Regions from separate parts of the Homo sapiens genome. Here region 2 is linked to region 1. The links come from fine-mapping of genetic effects on plasma protein levels. A gene starts in region 1. The other region holds a variant in brackets. All regions are shown on one strand. Distances are from middle to middle.

Evidence for each region. A credible set is the group of variants that fine-mapping cannot tell apart. PIP is the posterior inclusion probability: the model's chance that the variant is causal. Protein levels are from antibody-based Olink assays in UK Biobank. Linkage for the fine-mapping came from a reference panel and not from the study's own genotypes, which makes the PIPs less certain.
Region 2: its variant is the best candidate, but not a certain one, in a credible set for the plasma level of the CLIC5 protein (UK Biobank, PIP 0.74).

Annotation. Positions count from the first base shown.
Region 1 is chr6:46,009,958-46,022,262 of GRCh38, forward strand. CLIC5 (chloride intracellular channel 5) reads right to left here and starts at 5,903. Exons shown (of 6, transcript NM_016929.5): 1 at 5,523-5,903. The coding sequence starts at 5,585. It also overlaps the pseudogene RNU6-754P. RefSeq lists enhancers at 1,538-1,587, 5,016-5,860, 5,861-6,705 and a silencer at 5,554-5,603.
Region 2 is chr6:46,071,715-46,084,019 of GRCh38, forward strand. It overlaps a transcript of CLIC5 not described here. Among named protein-coding and RNA genes, the nearest start is that of ENPP4, 52 kb to the right of the region's middle. The variant A/G (reference allele first, on the strand shown) is at 7,408.

The sequences.
Region 1 (12,305 bases):
TCCAGCTTATGGAGCAGCAGTCCAGTCAGAGGCAGTCAGATCCAGTGGTGGTTGCACTGTACTTCAGTTGCCATTGGTCTGCAGCAATGAGACTCACTGCTTGTGTTCTCAGGGGTCAGCTCCAACAATCGGGAACATTTCTCTTCCAGTTCCCTGAATGACGACCTGCTTTGGAAACTTACATTTTCTTTCAAGAAGTATCTTGGTTCTGAGATGTGAGATTCAGCTGGTAGGACTGAGCCTCTGACTTCTTGTACACATCAAGGGAGGGAAGCCCAAGGGCTTTACTTTTACTTATTGGGCTACATGGAGCCTACAGAGAAAGACTTACTAATAGGCCAGATCCATACTCAGCTTGAAATGCTGACACCAACTCCATGAAAGATGTGCTGCTGCTATTAGCACTGCACTGGTTAAAACAAAAAAAAAATCTGTGGTCCAGAGAGGTCAAGCAGCCCATCCTGGCCAACACACTGGTGAACCCGAGCCTGACACCAAAGTTTCACTCTTCCACCACATCTCTTGCCACCACTAACATGGGGCCAGCAGCTGACAACTCAAAGGGAACCAAGAATGAGAAGTTTTTGACCTAACTGACTGTCTAAATTGACAGACGCTTTGTCTTGCATGGAGGGGGCCAATAAATGCCCAAAGAGACAACACAAGTCATCAGGGATGCAGGAGCTCTCAACACTGGCAGTGGACGTCAGCTTCTGCAGACCCAGTCCTCATTCCCACCACCCTGCCATGGCACTTCAAATATGCATCATACAACTCTTGACGCTAGCTCTCCAGGGATGTGTTACCAGGAGAAGAAGCACTCACTGCCATAGCAGGGCAGGCAAATTTGTGTATTGCGTTATTGACTACAGATCAAAACCTGAAGATAGTGGGAAAGAAAAACACAGTAGCTTAATATGATGAAGGGAACTTTAAAAACCTAGTGAGCTCATGCTTAGGCAAGCGGCCCAAGGTGACCAGGCAGTCACAGTAGCTCAGGGACATAGAGGCGACACCACAAGATCTGATCCTATCTGTTCTGGAAGTCAGATGACCACACCACGAGTCACCACAACTTGTATTGCACCCTGCACCACTCAGAAACTTTTGGGCCACTCAATAAATGAAAGACTAGTCGTTTCCATCAGACAATTAGCAGAACTCTGTTTTACTTCCCCCATGCTGAATTGATGATTCTTTGACTAGACCAACCCTATACACGATTGTTCTGGAGTCCTGTGGATAGGGCTTAATAGTTCGTCAGCATCTGTTAACTGGGCAGTGATTGGATGCAAGCTTTCTATCAACAACACTTCTGACCGTGATGCCCTGAGGCTGTTAGAAGTTCTGGACATTTAATCAGCATTAGCAAGGCCACCTATGTCAGCGGTGGCAGAAGCTGCCTGCTATTGGACCTGCCTCTGATTATGACTCAGTGGCTCTCCACCAGGGCTGCACGCTGGAGCCACCTGAGAGTGGATATGAAAATATTGTTTCAGGGTCCCACCCACAGACACACTGATGTAATCGGCTTGGGGAGCAAACTGCCATCAGAAGTTTTAAAATCTCTCTCAATGGATTGAATAGGTAGTGAAGGCTGAGAACCACTGGTTTCTGTTGAAACCTCAGTTCCTGGCTGAAGAGACACTTGCGGCGAGCTTGTCTGTATCATTAGTCACTTCTGGGGTCCAGGGGTGAGACTGGGAGTGGAGGAAGCAATGCAAATGGGTGGAATGCCTTGATCTAACCTACACAGCACATCCTGTGTTTGTCTTTTCAAATTGCTTTCTGTTTTGCTTTTACTTCCTTGCTCTATTTCTTTCAATAAACCACACTCACTGCCATTACCTCTAGCCTGTTGTCCTCCTCTTAGGATCAAAGTCCAAGCTACATATTATCTCATTTACTCTCAAAATATCCCTGCAAGTGAGGAAGGAGCCAGGCCTTTGTTCCCCAAGGCAAATCAGGGACGTGCAGGTCCAGAAAGGTTCAGTCTGCCATGGGACTCATAATATTCAAGTCAGTGTGTTTACAGCAATTTTCAATTTACAAAGTGTTTTCACCTATGTTCTCCCATGGAATCCTCACAGCAAATCTACAATGACAGTATTTTCATAACCAGAATGACCACACATCCTTATTTGCTCCCAAACTATCCTGGGTTATACCTGTGGTTCCAGCCTAATTATTGATATCATTCCCTTTCACTCTCAAAAGTGTCTAGATTTGGACAATAAATTATATGGTCTCCTTATTTATAACCATGCTCTTGTTTTAAGAGGGCCAGTGAGGCTCCTGAAAGTTAAATAATTTGTTCAGGATCATTTAGCTAATTAGAGGCAGAGGCAAGACTTGAACTCAGGTACTGCATCTCCAAATCCCTGCGCCATCCACAGGTATTATGGGACATTAGAATCAGAGTTGACATGATCTAACATTTCTTATTGTAGAAACTAAAAATGTGGGGAAATAATCTCTTAAAAGTCACTGTCAGAATGTTCCCCGAAAGGGAAAGACTCGGAGTACATAGCAGAAATGGGTTAGTCTCCTTGGAAGCATTCTATGAACACATTAGAATGGATTAATAACATAAATAAATGTCACCATGATGGCACTTGAAAGCCTAACTTGGCAAAATAAGGTATCAGGCCTGACATATAGGTATTTGGAAAAGAGCAAGAAATTCAAAGTCTAAACTGCTAGATTTGAGGACTGGATCTGAATGCTATCTGCCATCTACCTTTGGGCATTTTACCTACTTTCTGTGAGCACATGTATTGTTCAACAGAACAGGAGGAATTATCATTCTTAGTTCCCTGGGCTGTTACAAGAAGAGCAAACTGCAGCTCATCAAGTGCTCTGACAGCGAGTCTCATAAGGTACCTGTGAATCCAGTTTATTTGTTTTCTTTATCTTTCACATAAGTGAATCAAGCCTTATAAAGTTGCTGATGATCAAATGAGATAAGGTATTTGAACATACTTATTATGTCCTAATATGCTGCAATCTTTCCTTCTTCTTATCATTATCATTATCAGCAGTAGTAGTAACAGATAATGACTATCAATTGACGTGGGAGACAATTACAATTACATGTCATTGTGAAACTCATTAGGTGACTGTGATTTAGAGTGGTACACCCAGTGGAAACAAGAGGTTGGGAGGTCCTTCCAAGGGGGTGTTGAAAATGACCAAGTCATGACTATAACTGGGTGGGACCCATCCTTCTTGGAAGTCTTCATAGAAACCAACCCACCCTGCCCTGCAGAAAGAGCTTCAGTTACCTGACACCATCAACAAGAAGGCCTTTCTTTTTATGGGGAATCATGTACCTCAGAGAAACTCCAAACTTTGGAAAAGTGTGATTCTGTCAACAAGGATATTGCTTCCCTCAAATGACACAGTTCAAGTAAGGCCTGGGCAGCATCTTTATTTCACAATATTTCTAGCCTTTACTTGTCCCATTTACTTGTAAATGAGAACTGCTAACCTGAAGCTCAAAAAGATGGGGTTGAGGGAGGAGTCAAAACAACTTTCATACCTGATGTTTTGATCTCCCCATCAATCTGGTTTTTGAGCTAGCCATGAAGGCCTGCCTGGCTCTCATTGATTTCCTTTAGGGAAAAAACAAATGACAACACAGTCATTTTAGAATTATTTGGGGAACGCTGCAAATTGTGCAGTAAGGTTTTTATATAAATGGAGAGACTCTCCAACACTGCCAACAAGAAAATTCCAAAGGTGCAGGTAGAATCGGTCTCCACACCTAGGAGTGGGGCAAAGGGCTCCTTTGGTTCTAAAGAACCTATTTGTGTTTCAAATATCTTTCAGAAACTTGACACCTTGAAACTACCACTCTCAAGGAATCTGAGTAAGTCCTAGAATCGCTTTCTTCAAGGAGAGCAGCAAGACTCATCGCTTTGTTAAAGCTCTCCCTATTCACCCCTAGGGCCCAGGCCTGGATGCTGGGGTTCAGAACACCCCCTTGCTGCCCTAAGGTCCAACACTACCCAGCATCAGACGAGAAATGACCTCCTTTATTACCTGGGTCTGCCAAAGGACCTGGAAATCCAGCCTGGGGTGGGGGTGGGGGGAGTCCCAGAAACCAAAGGAGCACACAGGGGCCACAGTGGGAAGAGAACAGGCTGAAGAAAGCAAGTGTCACTAAATGTCAGGTGTAAGCTTGAAAAATAAACACAAAGAATGTAAAACCCAGCAGAAGAAATTTAACAAACCTTTGTGGTAGGCTGGGACAACGGAGACAGATCACGTACCAAGTGTAAAGTAAGTCACATTTTAAGAGTCAGAAAGTACCAAAGACCACAGATTGTTATCAAGGTTTATGTAGATCTCATACTTTTTGCAAACATCTATTTAATTAGCTTGTAGAGAAGGATCTTTTGGGCAAAATAACATTTTCCCAATTCCAGGGAATATTTATGCCTTTTAAATTCTGCCAGGAGGCCCCTGACAGGCACCAGTGACTCTTCCCTTCTCAGCGATCTGCATATTTCTAGGGAAACTTTGCACTGAGAGAGTTTTCCCCCTTTGTGAAAGGTCTTGGCGCCCAGGCAGTCCCCGACTTCCCCTCCCCCAAGTCCTGGCGACTGTTTCTGCTCAGCCCTGGAGGCTACTCTCCCGCAGCCTCAGGTTTCCCTACTTCTGCAGCGTCGGCACCAAGGGCTGATCAAATGTTTCTTTCTCCTTACACCGGCGGACCGGGAAACGCCGCCGCAGCCTCGCCTCCATCCTTCCTCCTACAGGTTGCAAATAAAGTACAGCAGCTCTGACATTAGGCAGTTTCTGTCCAAGGAGCAAGGTGACTTCATTTAATTTGCACTGTGCTCCTTCATCCCTGTCTGCATCAGGTTGAACGGGAGGCTCTCCCTACTACCAAACGCCTAACATTTCCTTGATACTGCCTTGAAAAATCATGATTATGACAAAAATAATAACGTCGGAGAATGGAGTGCTTGTTTTCTGCTTTGCAAGTCACCAAGCAAGAAAACACTTTTGTCTCCTTGGCTTTTATTTTAGGATCTCTGAGCGAAAGAGAGAAAGAGAATTTTAAGAAATGTCATTTTCGCTTTGCCAAAGATCATTGTGTCAATAACGTTTCTCTCCCATTCCTCCCCCTCCTCCCGTTTTAAAGGAAAGGTTCACGGGTCCAGCCAGGTTTCTGCCGCATCCCGACACCTGGAGACGTCTTTCAGGACCAGCCTGAATCGCGTCCGGGCTGGGCTCTGGACTCGGACTCGCAGCGGTGACAGCGGAGGCGGGGACGGGGGTGGACAAACTGCGGATCAACTCTCCGAGAAGACGGCCACCTGCCGGAACCTGCCTTCCTCCATTCCGCCCAGGAGCCTCGCAGCGGGGCGCTGGCCTGCGGAAAGGCCACGGGGGAGCACAGGGCTCCGCGCCGCCCTCCTGGGAGGGTCCGGAGTCCAGCGCACCCCGAGCCCTGGTGGGTGAGCCCGGCGGGAGGCGCGGCAGGTGCGGCGGGAGACTGGACCCCGACCTACCTTCACAAAGAGCTCGATCTCGGGGTCCCTGTCGTCCCCGTTAGCTGTCGCCGAGTCTGTCATGCCGTTGGCGCCCGGGGCTACCGTCCCGGGCCGGGGAGGCGCCACCTCTGCAGCACCTGGGCCAGCACTCTGCGCTCCTGCCGCTGCCCAGCGGGGCTCCTCTTCAGGGCGGTGTTTAATTTTTCACAAAACCATCTATTCTCCAGCCCGAGCAGCGGGGTCTGAGAGATCAGTGTCCCAGATGCTCACATGAAAAGGAGCGAAGCCGGGAGGAGGCGGGGGGCCACGGGGAAAGCCGGGTTAAGGGAATGACAACAGGTCGTGGGAGCAACAAGTGCCGGGCTGCCCGGAGGTGTCACAGGATCCGCGACTGTCAGCGATCCCGCCGCCGCCAACGCGCCCAAAATAGCCGGCGGCTGCAGGGCGGGGTCAGCCGGGCGGGGACGCGGCGGGGACACCCCGGCAGCTCGGGCCTGGGCCGGGCCACGGCCCCCCGCCCCAAGACCCCGCAGGGCAGGAGGCGGAGACAGAGCTGGTCCTGGCAAAGCCACCAAGGCCAAGAGGATGTCCTGGGGGCGGATAATGAGGCGAAGGCAGAAAGAGTCGAGGAGAAGGGGAAGGGGAAGAGGAAGGGGAAAGGGGAAGGGGAAGAGGAAGGGGAAAGGGGAAGGGGAAGAGGAAGGGGAAAGGGGAAGGGGAAGAGGAAGGGGAAAGGGGAAGGGGAAGAGGAAGGGGAAAGGGGAAGGGGAAGGAAGAGAGGAGATGGCTCTCAAGTCTTCTGTTTCTTTAATAAAGCGTCAGCTCCTCCGAGTTACTCCACTACCAGCCTTACCCACTTGGAAAGCCCTTCCTGTCTTAGTGATGCTCAGAACCCCCACCAAAAGGGGCATTTGCCATCCTTGGGCTAAGCAAAAGGAGAGTAGGGTGCTGGGGACGGGCAGGGCAGGGCAGGGGTGGCTCCTGGGGCAGAGGGGTGAGTCAACCCGGTCAGGTGCGGCTTCCATGCCTTTCAGCCTTCTGGGTTTGTTTATTTTTCTTCTCCCTTCTTTCATTTTCTTTCTATTTCTTCCTTTATTTTCTGATCTTACTTCATTCCCGTTCTCTTCTGGTTGTTTTAGTGAAGTAGGATGCAAACACAGAAAAGATGCACATATCTTAGGTGTATGCCTCAATGAATTTTCACAATCCAACCCACCCATGTAACGAGCGCCAGATGAAGAATAAAATGTTAGCCACAGCCCTAGAAGCTCCTCCTGCTCTCTCCTCTCCACATCTTTTCTCCCGTCTCCACTGTCCCAGGGTAACCATTATTCTGGCTTGTAGCAGCATAGGATCTTTTTGCCTGGAATGTTGGTGTCTGGCTTCTTTCGCTCATTACTATGTTTGTGAGATTCATCCATTGTGCTATGTGTAGTTGTGTATCATCCATTTTCACCGACACACTTACTTATTCATTCTTCTGTCAATGGACATTTGTGCAGGTGACTATCATGACTACTCTGTCACGAACATTCTCTCTATCAAACATCTTTTGGTTGGATTCACAGACACTTTTCTCTTGGATGTATACTTAGGAGTGGACTTGCTGAGTTGTAGTGTATAAGAATGCTCTCCTTGTGTAAACACTGCCATAGGTTTTCTAAAGTGGTTGCACCAACAGACATTCCCACCCTTCAGTTCTTTAAAAAATAATTATTGAATGTTTTGCACCAGAATCTGGTGGAATTCTCTTTGTCTTCTTTGCCTTCTCTTTAATTAATCCTGTTTGTGCTATGTCCTTCCTTACTAAAAACATGTATTTGTTTAATAGCTTTATTAAAAAATTTATCGCTTAATAAAAAAATAAGTAATAATACTTATTATGTGCTAGGCAAAAATGTTGAGCACTTTACATGTGTGAACTTGTATAATATTTACAAATAGTATAATGATCCCAATTTTACAAGTGGGGAAACTGAGACATGAAGTATTTAAGTAACTTATCCCTAGTCATTCAGCTAGGAAATGGTGAAGTCAGGATTTAAACCCAGACAGACTTGAGCCTGTCCTCTCAACTGCTCTACAAACTGCTTTTCTTAGTGCACACTATGGAAGTGCACACTTTGAGGAAACAAAGGCATGGTTTTAACGGTCTTAACAGAGATCAAAATCCCTTTCAGAATAATAGTTACATGAAATGAAAACTAAGGCTGCCACATGAATTGGGAAGATGAAGGAGCTATACAAGCTGTCACGTAAAGATACTATTTACCATGGTTGGGGTGAGGAGAGGAAAAGGCTTCATGGAGCAAAAGGCACTTTAGCTGAACCTTCCTGAAAGGTCAGGCATCTGATAGGCAAAGAAAAGGGAAAGATGTCCTCACTACCCTTTATGGCAGGCTGTGTCCCCACAGACTCTCAGTGCAAATTCCTCCTTCCTGAAGAAAGCAGTCACCAAGCCCAACGTGCAACTCTCTTGGTACATTATAACTTAATCAAGGTGATGTTTAATTGCTTTCCTCCTGCTTGGCTTCAGGCTTACATCACCAAAGCCTTTAGAGAAACAGTCACCTTCACAGCTGTACATTCTGCACCAATGACTACATACTTTAGGGAAGGACCAAGGTTACAGAGGGAGACTGGTGCCTTCGCTGCATGATGCACAGACTCAGAACATCCCTGCACTGAAGTGTAGGCAATATTCTTAATGGCAATGTGGCAGTAGCAAATAAAATTATATGCATAAAATGTCTTCGAGGGTTTTGGTTTTTTGTTTTTTGTTTTAATGAAAAATGTGTTACACGTATTTTCGATCATTTCCTTGGCTATGATCTAAACAATGTGTGGTATGACTTCTCTTTCCTTAATCCCAAACCTATCAGAGTTAACTTTCATTTTATCTTCTCCAAATATCTACTGCTATTGTAAATTTGGACAGATCTCTTTCAATAACATTTTATAGGAAATATCTCCCATTTGGACATCCCTGCAGATAACTTATAGTTTTGATATTATAAAGCTTCATGCTGCAAAAAAAATAATTCTTCTTTGGTCATAAACTATTTCTGTGCATATTTTCCATTTTCAATTTCATATTATGCCTTAGCTCAAGATAAAAGGACTTTACTTTGTACCCTTTAATGTTAAAGAATAATTGGTTAGAGTCAATTCTAGCTTTGTCTGGAGAAAAACACTATATGTCTAATTCCAGCCCATAGTTTCACAAATGTGGTGCAAGTTTTGAATAAATTTTTACCAGGAAAGTACTTTAAAAACACATTTAGTGCTCACTTTGGCAGCACATATTCTAAAATGGAAACCATACAGAGAAGATTGGCATGGCTCCAATGAAAGGGTGACATGCAAATCTGTGTGACATTCATATTTTTGTATGACTGTTGAAAGTGAAAACTATAACATATCTGATAGCATTTTTAATATATTTAGATTCAATAATATGACCACTGCAGCATAAAGGGTAAAGGGCAAGGAATTTATACAGTTGTAAGGTTTATATACTTTACTTGATATAGTAAACTCTAAGTAGCCTGAGAAAAACTAGGTATGTGTATTGTAATCCCTAAAGAAACAGCTATTTGAGTTATAAAACAAAAGTATAGTAAAAAAAAAAAAGCCAACAGATAAGCTAAAATGGAATGACAAGAAATATTCAAATAATCTAAAAGGCAGAAAAGAGGAAGAGAATAGAAAACTGATAATAAAATGGTACACCTAAATATAACCATATTAATACTTAAGCTAAATATAAATGGTCTAAGCACATAAATTAAAAGCTGAAGATTGTTGGATTGCATAAAAAAGCAACAAGAAGACCCAACTATATGCTGTTACAGAATTCACTTCAAACACAATGTTATTGATAAATTAAAAGTAAGAGGATGGAAAAGCCCCTGCCATGCAAACACTAATCAAAAGAAAGCTGGGCCGGGCGCGGTGGCTCACGCCTGTAATCCCAGCACTTTGGGAGGCCGAGGCGGATGGATCATGAGGTCAGGAGATCGAGACCATCCTGGCTAACAAGGTGAAACCCCGTCTCTACTAAAAATACAAAAAATTAGCCGGGCGCGGTGGCGGGCGCCTGTAGTCCCAGCTACTGGGGAGGCTGAGGCAGGAGAATGGCGTGAACCCGGGAAGCGGAGCTTGCAGTGAGCCGAGATTGCGCCACTGCAGTCCGCAGTCCGGCCTGGGCGACAGAGCGAGACTCCGTCTCAAAAAAAAAAAAAAAAAAAAGAAAGCTAACCTCTAAATTAATATAATTATTAATAATATATAAACATATATTAATGTAAGTCTATTAGACAAAATAGACTTCAGAAAAAGGAAATTATCAGGAATAGAGACATTACATAATAATAATAATAATAACAGAGCCAGCTCACCAAGAAGATAGAACAACCTTAAATGCATATATACTTAATAACAGAGCTTCAATATTGATGAAACAATAGCTGATGGAACTGAAAGGAGAAAGAGAAATACAGAATTATAGTTAGAGACTTCAGTTCTCCTCTTTTGGTAATTTATAGCACAAGTAGACAAAAAATCCATAAGAATATAGAATATAGAAGACCTAAACAACACTATCAATAACCTTGACCTTATGAACATTTGTGGAATATCCCACCCAAACAACAACATAATATACACTATTGTCAGATATATATGGAACATTTACCAAAAGAGATCACATTCTGGGTCACAGAACAAACTTCATTACGTTAAAATAATGAAATTATACAAAGTATGTTCTCTGACCATAATGGAATCAATTAAATTAATATCCAGAAAGATATCCAAAACACTTCCAGTTATTTGGAAATTAAGCAACACACTTTAAGAAATTCATTGATCAACAAGGAAGCCTCAAGGATTATTAAAAAATATTTTGAACTGAATTCAAATGAACATACAACATATCAAAATTTGTGAGATGCAGCTAAAGCAACGCTTAGTAGAAATTTATACATAAAACACTTATTTTGGAAAATAATAAAGTTCTGAAATTTATAATCTAGGCTTCCATTTTATGGAACTAGAAAAAAGAACAGCCAGCTAAAACCAAAGCAAGCAAAAATAATAAAATAATAAATATAAAAACAGAAATTAATGAAATCGAAGAAAAAATAAAACAATAGAGAAAATCAATAATACTAGAGGCTGGTTTTTATCAAAGATCAATAAAGTTGATAAATTTCTCACTAGATTTACCAAAAAACTAGAGAGAGAAGATATATTATCAATGTTAGATACAAAAGATGGGATATCAACTATGAACTTCACAGATACAAAAAGATAAGGGAGTACTACAAACAACTCTCTGAACATAAATTAGACCATTTAGATAAAATGGATAAAAGACACAGACTAACAAAATTCACTCAATGAGAAGTAGATAACCTGAATAGTCCTATATTTATTAAACATATTAAATTCATAGTTGAAAGCCCTCCAAGAAAAGAAAACTACAGCCCCATATACCTTCATTAATGAATTCTACTAAACATTTTAGAAAGAATAACACCAATTCCATGCAATCTCTTCCAGTAATGAGAAGAGGAGGAAGTGAAGGACTTGTATCCAGGATTTGTAAAGAATTTTTACAACTCAAAAAAAAAAAAAAAAAAAAACCCAGCTAAAAAAATAGGCAAAATATCTGAGCAGACACTTTAACCTAGAAGACTTACCAATGGCAAACACATGAAAATATGCTCAACGTTCTTCAGTAGAGCAATGCAAATAAAGAGATACCACAATATACCTATTAGAATGGTTACAATGTGCATTCATGATAATCCCATGTGTGAGCAAGAATACAGAGCAACTGGAACTCTCATACATTGATGGTAGGAATGCAAAATTGTACAGTCATTCTGGACAGCAGTTTGGCATTTTCATATAAAGTCAAATGTACACTTACTATATGGCCCACTTACCATCTTCTGGGTATTATCCAAGAGAAATGAAAACTTATGTTTACATAAAACCTTGGTACATAAATTTTTTTTTACAAAAGTATTATTCATAATTGCCCCAAACTGGAAACATCCCCAAATGTTCCTCAATGGGTAAATGAATTAAAAAAAGTGATAACATTTATGCAACGGTATATCACTTAGCGATAAAAAGAATGAGCTATTAATTGGTGCACAACACAGGTAAATCTCAAATGCCCCATATTAAGTGAAAAAGAAAAGCAGTCTCAAAAGGTTACTTACTGTATGGTTTCATTTACATGACATTCTGGAAAATAAAAAAATTATAGGGATGGAGAGAAGATCAGTGGCTGCCAGGGACTGGGATAGATGAGGGCTTGATTACAAAGGGGCAGCTTTCAGCTGATAGAACTACTTTGCATCCTGTTTGTGTCATTGGTTACACACATTTCTGTATGTGTTAAAATATACAGAACTACACACCAAAAAGGTGAATTTTCTGTATGCAAATTTAAAAAATGATCAAAATGCTTAAATAATTTCCAAAAAGGTAAAGCCATCAGGTTCTATTGCCATACCCACTTTCCACACAGTCTTTGCTTCAAATCTGTAACATCAGACCTCATCTTACCATTAATTTCAGAAATGTAAAAGAGATTTCTATTTTATGAGATGCAGTGCTTCTAATTAGGCTGATCAACAAAATAAAACAAACTTTCATTGAAATAACAAAACAAAATAAACATATTTAGACAGTGTGTTTGTGTGTGTGTGTTATGAAATGACATGTACTGTAAAATAATGATGATGCTTATGGGGAGATTTTTCAGAAAATGCTTGCCCTACC
Region 2 (12,305 bases), 62 kb after region 1:
ACCCAGCAATCTCATTACTGGGTATATACCTAAAGGAATATAAATTGTTCTATCATAAAGACACATGGATGCATAAGTTCTTTGCAGCACTATTCGCAATAGCAAAGACATGGAATCAACCTGAATGCCTATAAATGGTAGACTGGATAAAGAAAATGTGGTACATATATACCATGGAATACTATGCAACCATAAAAGAACGAGATCATGTTCTTTGCAGGAACATGGGTAGAGCTGGAGGCCATTATCCTTAGCAAACTAATGCAGGAACAGAAAACCAAACACCGCATGCTCTCACCCATAAGTGGGAGCTAAATGATGAGAACACACAGACAAATAGAGGGGAACAACACACACTGGGGCCTATCGGAGGGTAGAGGGTGGGAGGAGGGAGAGGATCAGGGAAAATAACTAATGGGAATAGGCTTAATACCTGAGTGATGAAATAATCTGTACAACAAACCCCCATAACACAAATTTACCTATATAACAAATCTGCTAATGTACCCCTGAACTTAAAAGAAAAAAAAAAAAAAAGAAACACATGTGGATCATTCCTGTGGCTAGGTGGGGGGAGGGGGGATCCTAGGGAGATGGATGACTCTAGAGGCAGAGTGACCAGTTAAACAGCTGTGGTCAAGATGACACTGATCAGTAGTGGCCAAGATGAAGAGGAGAGAATATTTTCAGAGGTGAAATCGATTGCACTATTGAAAGTAAAGGAGAAATGCAAATCCAAGTTATTCAGAAGTTTTAGTTTGTACAATTAGTGATGCTGTCCAGGATGATGGGATTAGTAGTGCATGCATTGACATTGAGTTTGTAGTCTCTTGGGGGAAAAATTGCAAAACATTCTTTAGAAAAAAATATGGGCCCTAATTTGGGGATATGTATTTCAGAGTATCACATCACTTTCATTTTCAGAGTTAACATAACTCTCACATGATTATTTGGTGATGCTTCTTTATTATTCTTTCATGAAGGTTTCTTCCCATGGTTCCTAAAGGTGCTAAAAGGCTTAGAAAAGGATTTGTTTCACCCCATAGCTTATTCTACCCCTCCCACATGGGCACACAAGGTGTGAGTACCCAGGCAGGGAAAGTGGAAAGCATCACAGTGATAGTTAACATTTCTGAGAGTTCATGGACCCTCCTGAAATCATCTGGCACAAATATTTTTGCATAGGGTTCTAGAATGTTCCTCAACCTTCTGAAGCATATTCATGAACATATGAATATATTCCCAGGCTAGGAATGCCGATATAAAGAAAAATCCCCTGGATGGACAGCCCAATGTACTAGCTTGCCAGTGATTTGCAGGCAGCCTTAGGAAGGTTGGTTCACTCCTCTGACTTTCCACATTCTTGGCACAGTGCTAAGATTCTGAGAGTCTTTGATTAATGGCATTGATTCACAAAGCAAACCAGTTCATATGGGCACCTAGAAAATAATTTTGAATAAAACTGGGCCTTGATTGTGTTCCCAGCACTCTAATTAAGTGAGTCCAGCCAGGCTATCTCACCCCATGCAAACACACTTTTTAAACTGGAAACTATACTAAAATAACAATCAAAACCTTGTGCTGAATCCATATATCTCCCCCTTACCCTCACAAAATATAAAGTAGCTGGATACACAGATAGATAATATATAAATCAGCATCACACCAGCTAGCTTTTTCCACGAAAATTGGTTTATATGAAGCCACAGATTTAAATACGTGGACACATCCAGATGATCAGTTGAAGAGATACAGTGTTAATGATATATGATATATTTATATCTAAATACTTGAACTAATCTTTGAAACAAAGCATGATGTCTGTTTGGTTCTGTTCTAGCTGGTAGGTGGAAATTCTTTTTAATTTGCTTGCTGTCCTAAACATTGTTTTGCTCATGGTATCCTCCTCAGAACATTCTATTACTCTTGGTTGCTCTCAGGATAAGATCCAAGCCCCTTAGTTTGCAGTGAAAGGCAGCACTCTTAGTTATTCAACTTCGTCATCTGCTCTTCACCTATGTGGGCCTTCTGACCCACTCAACCAAATGGACCTTGCCATACACATGTGAGTGTTGGCTGTGACTCTGCTTCTGCTGAGCCCACTGCCTGGGACGTCCTTTGAGCCACATCTCAACATCCCAATCCAGCTTCATTTATCTCATTTCCTCAAGGGGATTTTATAAGTTTCTCACCTGCAATGATAAAACTTTGTTTGCCTCCAAGGTAAATGCACTAAATGTGTTGCTTATGAAAGCATCCAGGAAGAACCTAGGAAGTAAGGGGATCTGTTCTCATCAGCTCTTGGCCAAGGAAAGAGGTCCAGGCCCACAGATCATAGCAGAAAAGGAAGGAAAGCCTACAAATCAGTAATGTTTTTTTAAAATTGCATATCCCTATCAATATAAAACATTTACCCACAATATATGTATATTTACTCACTTACAAATTATATATGTATATACTACTGTAAGAGTACACTGTGCTCATTGTAAAATATATAAAATATTAACATTTAAGGTGGTTAGATAAAAGTTCAATAGAAATGTTGCTTATTATTTTTCATTCTAATTATAGTATTCTAACACCACATGGATTATGTTGAGTGCCCCATTTTGAATACCATGACCCCTATAACCACATCAGGCACCTCTGCTATGGCAATAATAGTAATTACGACAATTCTGGAGCACTTTACTATGCTGAGCCAAATTATAGTGAATAATTCCTTTAGAATAATTATGGGCTATGAGTCTAAAAAGTATTAACCAGTGTTGTTCTGTTGCCTGACTTCAACAGGACATTTACATTTTCTGTGAATAGTGCCCCCTAAACTTGTTCAGTGCACAACCTGTGCATCCCCGCATGAGGGCCCTATAAGTGTTCTATCAGAGATAGGCTCTGAAGCTGCAGATACTTTCCAAGGGACAGGCTTCACGTGAGCTGAGTGTGGACAGGAGTGTTGTTCTTATGTCAACTTTTCCAACCACAGCCAAATCTAGAAACCATAGTCAGTGTTGAGCAGTATCTTAGAGTGGATAATAGGTGGTGCCATATACACATGTACACACTGACCAGGAGTTGGAGCCATACACCTTGGAATCTAAGACTGTAAGATCTAGGAAAGATTCCTTTCAAGGATGAAGAAATTTGGGTCCAGGGACATTTTATGCAAAAGTATTGACAAAGTTGTGTTAGAATTCCCTGACCACTGCTCTTTCCACAATATTGTATTGCTCATGTTTGAAAAACCCAGTAGGATATTTACTGAATGCTTGCTGCAAAGCACTATGCTTAAAATAAAACGTCATTTCCTGAATGGTTCCAATTTATCACAATAAGTAATAATTTAGGCTCCTATATATTGACATTTACCATATGTCAGATACTATATTAAGCAACTTATAAGCATTATCTTATTTAATCTTTATAATAACCCTATGAGGAAGGTATCATAATGTCCATTTTATCAATGAGGAAATTGAGGCTGAGAGAAGCTCAATAATTTAACAGAAATTAATCTGCTAAAGTAGGTTTCAAATCCATGCAACCAGACTTCAAAACCTGCTCTAGGGGCTGGGCACAGTGGCTTCTGCTTGTAATCCTAGCATTTTGGGAGGCTGAGGTGGGAGAATCACTTGAGCCCAGGAGTTTAAGAACAGCCCTGGCAACGGGGCAAGACCCTGTCTCTACAAACAAACAAACAAACAAACAAAAAATTTAATTAGATGGGTATGGTGGTGCACACCTGTGGTCCCAGCTATTCTAGAGGCTGAGGCGGGAGAATGGCTTGAGCCCAGGAGATTGAGGCTGCAATGAGCTGTGTTTGCACCATTGCCCTCCAGCTTGGGCAACAGAGTGAGACCCTGTCTCAAGACAAAAACGAAAACAAAAACCTGCTCTAAGACATATTCCGCTTCCATAATAAATGACATAAATTATGTATAGGACAAATGGTGTTTATTTGTACCATTTTCTTTTGCAATAACCATTATCAGAATACTTTCTTCCTTTGCATTAAACAAAATACTAGAATGCTTTTTTCTCTCTCCATCTCTCTCACCACCCATCCCCTCTCTTTAACATACATACATACAGACACATTAGCGAATATCAGCTTTCTCATTCGCACATTTTCTGAGAAGGGGTCCATAGCTCACTATAATCTCTAGAGTCAACCATGGCTCTTTATTTTTCTTTTCACCCACATCAAATTCTTCAGCAAAATGCTTGGGCTTTCCCTTCAAAACAATCCCAATGCTCCACTGCTGTCACAGTAACGCACCCTCATCTCTTGCCTGAAGTTTGTCAGTTGCCTCTAAACTGTTTTTCCCTGTTACTGTGTCTACCCGTCCCAGCTACAGCCTGTTATAAAAAGGTGGCCATACTGTTCCTTCCAAAATCGCCCAATGCCTCCCGCTGTCACTCAGAGTGAGTGAGGTTCCCCTAGTGGCCCCTAAGGACTGCTGTGATCATGGTCTGTGCCTCTGCACCTCTCCAGCCTCATCTCCTACCACCTTGCCTCCCTGGCTCACCCACTGCAGCCACACTACTGCCTCGCGCCTACTTACCGTCACTCTCCATCCGCCAAATATGGCCATGTCCGAATTCCCAGAAGCTGCAGATTACTTTATGTGACAAACGGACTTGCAAATGTGATTCAACTAAGAATTTTAAAATGAGGAGATTATCCCGGATTATCCTTGTGGGTCCAATCTAATCGCAAAGTTCCTTACAAGAGAAATGCAAGGAGAGTCGGAAGAAGGCAATGGGATGATGGAAACAGGGCGAGAAGAGGTGATGTGATGTGGGCCATGCGCGAGGAATGAGATCTGCTTCTAGAAGATGGAAAAGAGAAAGAAACAAATTCTCCCCAGAGCCTCCAGAAGGAAAACAGCTCTGCTGACACCTTGAGTTTAGCCCCATAAGACTCATTTCAGACTTCTGACCCCCAGAACTGTAAGAGAATATTTGTATTCTTTTAATCCACTAAGTTTTAGGTAATTTGTTAGAGCAGAAATAAGAAATTAATACACCCATATCCTGTTTTATAGCATTTTCACCATTAGCCCTATTTTATATTTATTTGTTTATTTGTTTATCAGTTGTCTCTCCCACTACAATGCAAAGTGCCTGGGAGACATGGCTGGGCGCGGTGGCTCATGCCTGTAATCCCAGAACTTTGGGAGGCCGAGGTGGGTGGATCACTGAAGTCAAGAAATCGAGACCATCCTGAACAACATAGTGAAAACCCGTCTCTACTAAAAATACAAAAATTACCTGGGCATGGTGGCGCATGCCTGTAATCTAAGCTACTCGGGAGGCAGAGGTTGCAGTGAGCTGCCCTCCAGCCTGGGTGGCAGAGTGAAACTCCGTCCCAAAAAAAAAAAAGTGCATGGGAGACGAGACTTTTTTTTTCTTCATTGGTGTAAACCCAGCACCTGACATAAGATCTGTTGAATGAATAAATGAATGACATATGTTACTTAATTAAATAATTGGTCAACACTCTGAAATGATTAAGCCTCAATAAAATGTTGGTTAAACATATACTTACAAACCTGCATGACATTCTCACCAACATGTCTAGAACAGGTGAAAACATACACAAATGAATACAAGTATCAATGCAGCCCAGTGGTCCACACTAAAACAGCCCAGGAGAAGAACATCCAGAACTGAAAAGCCGTAAGCCCTACTAGGAAGACAGTGAGCCACAGAGCTCCCTCCAGTGTGGGGGACCAACATCCCTTCCACAGAGCAGGGAAGAGGAAAAGGCCTGAGAGGTCACACTCACACCCTACAGTTTCACTCAAGCAGAGAAGGCCCTGTTTTACTCGATTTTATATATTCTACTTCCATTCAACATTGGGTAAGGAACTTCAGTGAAGATAGGGCCGAGTGTGGAGCTAGGAAGCAGGGATTATAACTGCCGCTCTTTTTATTACTGAATATCCTTAAAAAGGAGTTTATGCATAGAAGCTGAGGTCAGTGGGACACTCTATGGCCTTTCAGTTCACACAATTATGCTAAAAAGAATGTAAACTTAAAGAGTTAAATCTAATATTTGCTTTAGGAAATTTTAAGTAATTTAGGAATTACATGTTATAGTCAATCAATTTTCCCTGTTGCTGGTACTGCCAGGAAGTACCAACACTTCTTTTTCCTACTACTTCTGTTTTTGCTCAATACCAGCCATAGGCTAATTTCTAGTGAGATAAACACTTAGCCAAATTTAGAAATAATGTCAGATGGGTCCATGATGATGATCATGGTGATGACCCACTTTGCCTGTCACAGGTTGCATGGATGCTTCTGCCATGAGAAAAAAAAAATACATCTAGTCCTCACTTTAAAAAAGTCTGTGGCCAGGAGCTGTGGCTCACGTCTGTAATCCCAGCACTCTGGGAGGTTGAGGCGGGTGGATCACTTGAGGTTAGGAGTTTGAGACCAGCCTGGCCAACATGGCAAAACCCCATCTCTACTAAAAATTCAAAAATTAGCCAGACCAGGTGGCACATGCCTGTAATCCCAGCTACTCGGGAGGCTGAAGCAGGAGAATCATTTGAATCTGGGAGGTGAAAGTTGCAGTGAGCTGAGATCATGCCATTGCACTCCAGCCTGGGTGACACAGTGAGACTCTGTCTCAAAAAAGAAAAAAAAAAAAGTTTGTTTGCACAGTGTGACAGTGATGATGTGGATATGGAGGTCAGAAAACTGCGTGAATGCACCTGTTCTAACATCACCTCCTCCGTGGAGCTGCTCCAAACTCAGTACACATCTCAGCACTCCTTCTCTGAACACCCACACACTCCACCCACTCCTCTGTTTCATCTCTTACTATATTGTATTAGAATACATTGAGTGCAAGTCTGTCTCTGTCACCATATTATTCATTACTTAAGAGCAAGGGCCTTGTCTTGCACAGCCCTTTCCCCCCAAATGCTCAGCAGAGTACAAGGCAATGTGTGTCTGGTATGTATGTGTGAACCAAGCACTATACTAGATTATTTTTAAAAGGACCTTGTAGTAGAATAAGTGATCCATGATTTACACACAAAACAATTAGAGAAAAGAACAAATTACAAGACAACAAAGGGCAAAATTAGTAAAGTGTGTTTCATCAGAAATGTTACTGGGAACTGGGGAAGAGAGAAATGAGTATGAACTATGGTTTCTGTAGGTTTATAATCATTTTTATTGGCAGGAAAGAGCAGCATTTACAAATATATTTATATAATAAATGTGAAAACATTTCTAAAAATCACATAAATATGAATATTGTGGGGGAGATGTTGGGGAAAAAGGGCCTGCCATCTTGATTAATAAAGATGATTTGTTTAGGTCTGAAACACTTTACATTTTGATAATATTTATAACCATAACTTTATTACTTTATCATCTAATACA[A/G]AGATCACCAAGGTTCTGTTTAGATATCGTAAGCATTAAACATTAACACTGGTAGTGTCTTACTACTACTGAAATCATTTGACTTCATCAAATTTTTAGTTATATTGGTGCCAAAGGGGCAAGCTAGTGACAGAGATAGCCTTTATTGACCACCTATCTGACAAATCTGTGACCTTAGAAGCACAAGAAGGTCTTTCTTTCACAAGCTTTGGTTTCACTTTTAAACATGTTGACAAAGGAAATTTAACCAGACAGAAAAATGTACTTAATGTCAGCCACAATGGCAAGGATTTGGGCAGCAGTTATGGCTCACTTATGTGAACCGTTTTGAAAAATACTTTGCCCATGGTATGTAAAAGTCAGTGATTAAATACGTGCTTTAAATGCACCTTCCAATTCCTCTAATTTTGTGAAGAGCTGAGTACACTCTAATGACTGATTTAGTCCCTCCGACTCCTGAATATGTATTGAGATCCAAGGACCATGGCATTATGAATCTTTCCCTGGTCATTCAGAGCAAAATAAAACACCAGCCATAATATCTGCATGAACAGGGTATGCCTGTCAGAGGCAGACCTTACCTTCACAAAGAGGTAAATCTCAGGGTTCATGTGAGCTCCCTCCTTTTCTTCCAAACCTTCAGCATCAGAATAGCAGGAATACTTGGTGGTAGAGAAGGCCTTACTGTGCTGAATGGTGAAGCTTGAAGGAGAAGGCAGATCTTCCTTCATCACACTCCCATTCTCCTGGAGTTCTGCTGCGCAGAGTTGCTGGTCCTGGGTTGATGAATATAACCCTTCCATTGAGATGCCCCTGTCCTCCTGGGGCTCACCTGGATGAGCCTCCTGGAGTTCAGAGTATATCTCATCAGGCAGGAGGTAGCCTCTGTCTTCTGACTGGACAGAGGCCAAGCTGGTCTCTTCACCCTTAATGGTATAGACTGACACAAAATCATACTCATGGGTATTCAGCTGAGTGGCATATAAATCATTTTCTGGCCTTAAGTACTCATGGACATCATCATAATGGGGACTTTCATTTTCTTCTGGCTGGTCTGGAACCTCATACGTCCTCTCATTTTGGATTGTGTCATAGATGGTGCTGTAGTCTTCGTCATTCATGCTTATTGATCCGAGAGATCTGTTTACAGGGAGACCTGAGTAGATCTGAAATGAATGAAGGGACAGAGGATGCTGCACCACCTTGCAGAGGAATCAACGAGCTCTTAAAAGGCAGCAACTAGCAACTGCTATCAATGACAGGTCTCTAACAATTATTTACTGGAGAGTTTTATAAGCAAACCACAAGTCCATTGGACAGAAGATAAAGCTTACACACTCAGTTAACTCCTTCACTCCTAAAGATATTTTTATTAGACCCTGGGGATTTCCTCATTGGCAGTAACTCCAAGATTCTTTGGGTAAGCCAGAGATTGAATTGAATTATCTTCCTGGTATACACTGAAATTTTGAATATGTAGCCATTTTTCATCAATAGAGCTCCCTCCTCCAACTGCCTCCAAATGTTGACAACATTCAAGAACCCCTGCAATTCAGTGGAGAGCTACAATTCTTCACAATGGCCTCTCATCTATTTACTGCTGAATTTATCACATAGAACAATTATTTGCCTATTGATACCCTGTGATAAATGAATTACATGCCCTGGTTAGGTAATGAATTCCATTTACATTTCTTATCTGGAAACACCACTAGGTGATTAAACAGCAGAAGGAAAAGAAGATAAATGCTCTGGCCTATAGACACATCAGTATAGACCACCCAAATTAGGGACTCAAAGACTTATGGCTTTAATTTTTATTTTTCCCCCTTAAATCTGCATGATCATCACCATCAACAAACATTCACTAAAATCCTATCATATACAGAATGCTGAATTGAGCACAACAAAAGCGTTAGAAGACACATTCTCTGTCTTCAAAGGGGCTTTTAAATGTAGCTGGAGGGCCCAGAAGAGAAAAATAAAACCGAGGAAAAACTATTTAAAGTTTTCTTAGTGCAATAAGCCCAGGTCTGGATAAGCAATAAAAAATTGTATGCACAAGGCTGTTCAGTCAATGCCATCCACAGATGCTGTGAATATGTGTGCCCCCCAAATTCTTTTTAATCTGGTACTCTATCCTGCTAATTCCTGCTTCCCTTTGCCACACCACATACATCTTTCTCCTTGAAGTGACAACCCAGCTAGGTTGTAAAGGGACTTTAATGTCTAGAAATCATGTGAAAACTGTGAAGCAATGCAACTCCTGTTGACAAGCTTCAGAACATTTGATGGGCATCTTGGCAAAACTTCGTTGTACTCTTAGACTTCAATATTGTATCCAGGAATCTTCTACTGGGAATTAGAGCAGCATTTCTAGAATTCTAGCTTAAAGAATGGGTAAGGAAAAAGAGGTCAGAGACTTCAAAGGCTATTGACACTGGACATTTATCTTATTGAAAAGTGACATTCAATGGGTCCAAATACCTTACACATTTTGATAGGTTCTATAATCAGGTGTTTTTAATTGAATGGATTCCAGTTCAAATCTTCCTCCTAGTTTTACAGCTGGTGAAAACCTAAGAGATCATTCAAACATTTTATTTTACATTTGAAAAAAATTTAAACCTAGAAAGTGGAAGTGAATGGTCCAAGTTTACACAAAAACTTAATGGCGGAGCTGACTTTAGCTGTGGTTTTTGAACCTCCAGCTCAGTAATATTTCTGCTACTAAATCTCTTCCTTAACTCAGTATTTTCCAATCTTTTTTTCATGATCACACACTGTCCCTTCCCTGCTCCCAAAGGAGCCTTTTCAGATATTTCTCTATGAAATAAAAATGCTGCAGATATACTACATATCTGTTTGCATATTGTATATACATATGCATTTTGTACATTAAAAGAGTAACTTTTTTTTCTTTTTGCTTCCCAAGAACCAATTTTCACCCCTTGGGGGGTGACACTACTCCTTTCCACAATGCAACTCATGCTTTTACTACTAATGCAGTGTGTAGCTCATAATCTAACACTGGATTCTGTTTCATTCTGCATTATTACAAAGAATAGTATACAGCATGTGCATATGGATACAGCATGTTGTCAAGTCCTCACCACAATGACCCAGTGAGGCAGGGCTGAGGTTGGCTAAGCTTAGGGCCCAAGATCAAACAGATATTTCAAATTAGGTCCCTCTCTTATCCCATTTTAGAACACATCTATCATGATCTACAGTTACAGGTTGTAATATGAAACAAGTCCTTCCGTTAAAATGTAAGTCAGGTCATATTGCTCTGTGCTCAAACCCCTACAATGGCTCCCCATTTATCTTAGTGAAAGCCAAAGTCCTTACAACGGCCCACATGGCCCTGCATAATCCACAACCACTCTCCTATACCTGTTTTTTCACCCCTTGCCGACCCAGCTCCAGACAATTGAGCCTTGTTTCTATACCTGGAACACTCCTGGATATTCCCATATTAGACCTTTTACATTGGCTATTCTCTCTAAGAGAACACACATTCCCTGGATATTTGCATAGTCAATTCCCCCAACTCCTATAAATTTTTGCTTTAATGTCCCCTTCTCAATGAGACTACACTGACTGTCCTGTTTAAAATGACAACCCATCCCAAATCCTATCTTAATCCCTGTTCCATTACTAAAAACCCTTACCCTACTTTCCCCCCCTTTTCCATAATATTTATCACCCTCTAATAAGATATATACATAACTTATTTTTTATGTCTAGAGGTTTTATTTTCTGTCTTATCCTACTAGAATGTAAACCCTATATGGCGGCGAATCTCTGTCTACTTTTTCATCATTATCTCAAGTACCTAGAACAGTGTCTGGTACATATTATATATATGTTGAATGAATACGTATTTGTTGAATGAATTTTTAAGATTGCTGACATATTTATCCTTCATTGGGTACTTACGTTTCACGAGAACAAGGCCCATGCCTATTTTTTCACGTTGCTATATAGCTAAAGTCTAGCAGATATCTGATATGTAATAGCTGCCTATTAAATATTTGTTGGATAAATAAATTAAAGGAAGAAGATGTATCTAGCATTCATGTCCTTTTACTCCTGGCTCAGTTTTCTGAGCCATTAATTTTTTGAAGGGTTTTTTCTGTCTCTATTTCCTTCAGTTCTGCTCTGATTTTAGTTATTTCTTGCCTTCTGCTAACTTTTGAATGTGTTTGCTCTTGCTTTTCTAGTTCTTTTAATTGTGATGTTAGGGTGCCAATTTTGGATCTTTCCTGCTTTCTCTTGTGGGCATTTAGTGGTATAAATTTCCCTCTACACACTGCTTTGAATGTGTCCCAGAGATTCTGGTATGTTGTGTCTTTGTTCTTGTTGGTTTCAAAGAACATCTTTATTTCTGCCTTCATTTCATTATGTACCCAGTAGTCATTCAGGAGCAGGTTGTTCAGTTTCCATGTAGTTGAGCAGTTTTGAGTGAGTTTCTTAATCCTGAGTTCTATTTTGATTGCACTGTGGTCTGAGAGACAGTTTGTTATAATTTCTGTTCTTTTACTTTTGCCGAGGAGAGCTTTACTTCCAACTATGTGGTCAATTTTGGAATAGGTGTGGTGTGGTGCTGAAAAAAATGTATATTCTGTTGATTTGGGGTGGAGAGTTCTGTAGATGTCTATTAGGTCTGCTTGGTGCAGAGCTGAGTTCAATTCCTGGGTATCCTTGTTAACTTTCTGTCTCGTTGATCTGTCTAATGTTGACAGTGGGGTGTTAAAGTCTCCCATTATTATTGTGTGGGAGTCTAAGTCTCTTTGTAGGTCACTCAGGGCTTGCTTTATGAATCTGGGTGCTCCTGTATTGGGTGCATATATATTTAGGTTAGTTAGCTCTTGTTGTTGAATTGATCCGTTTGC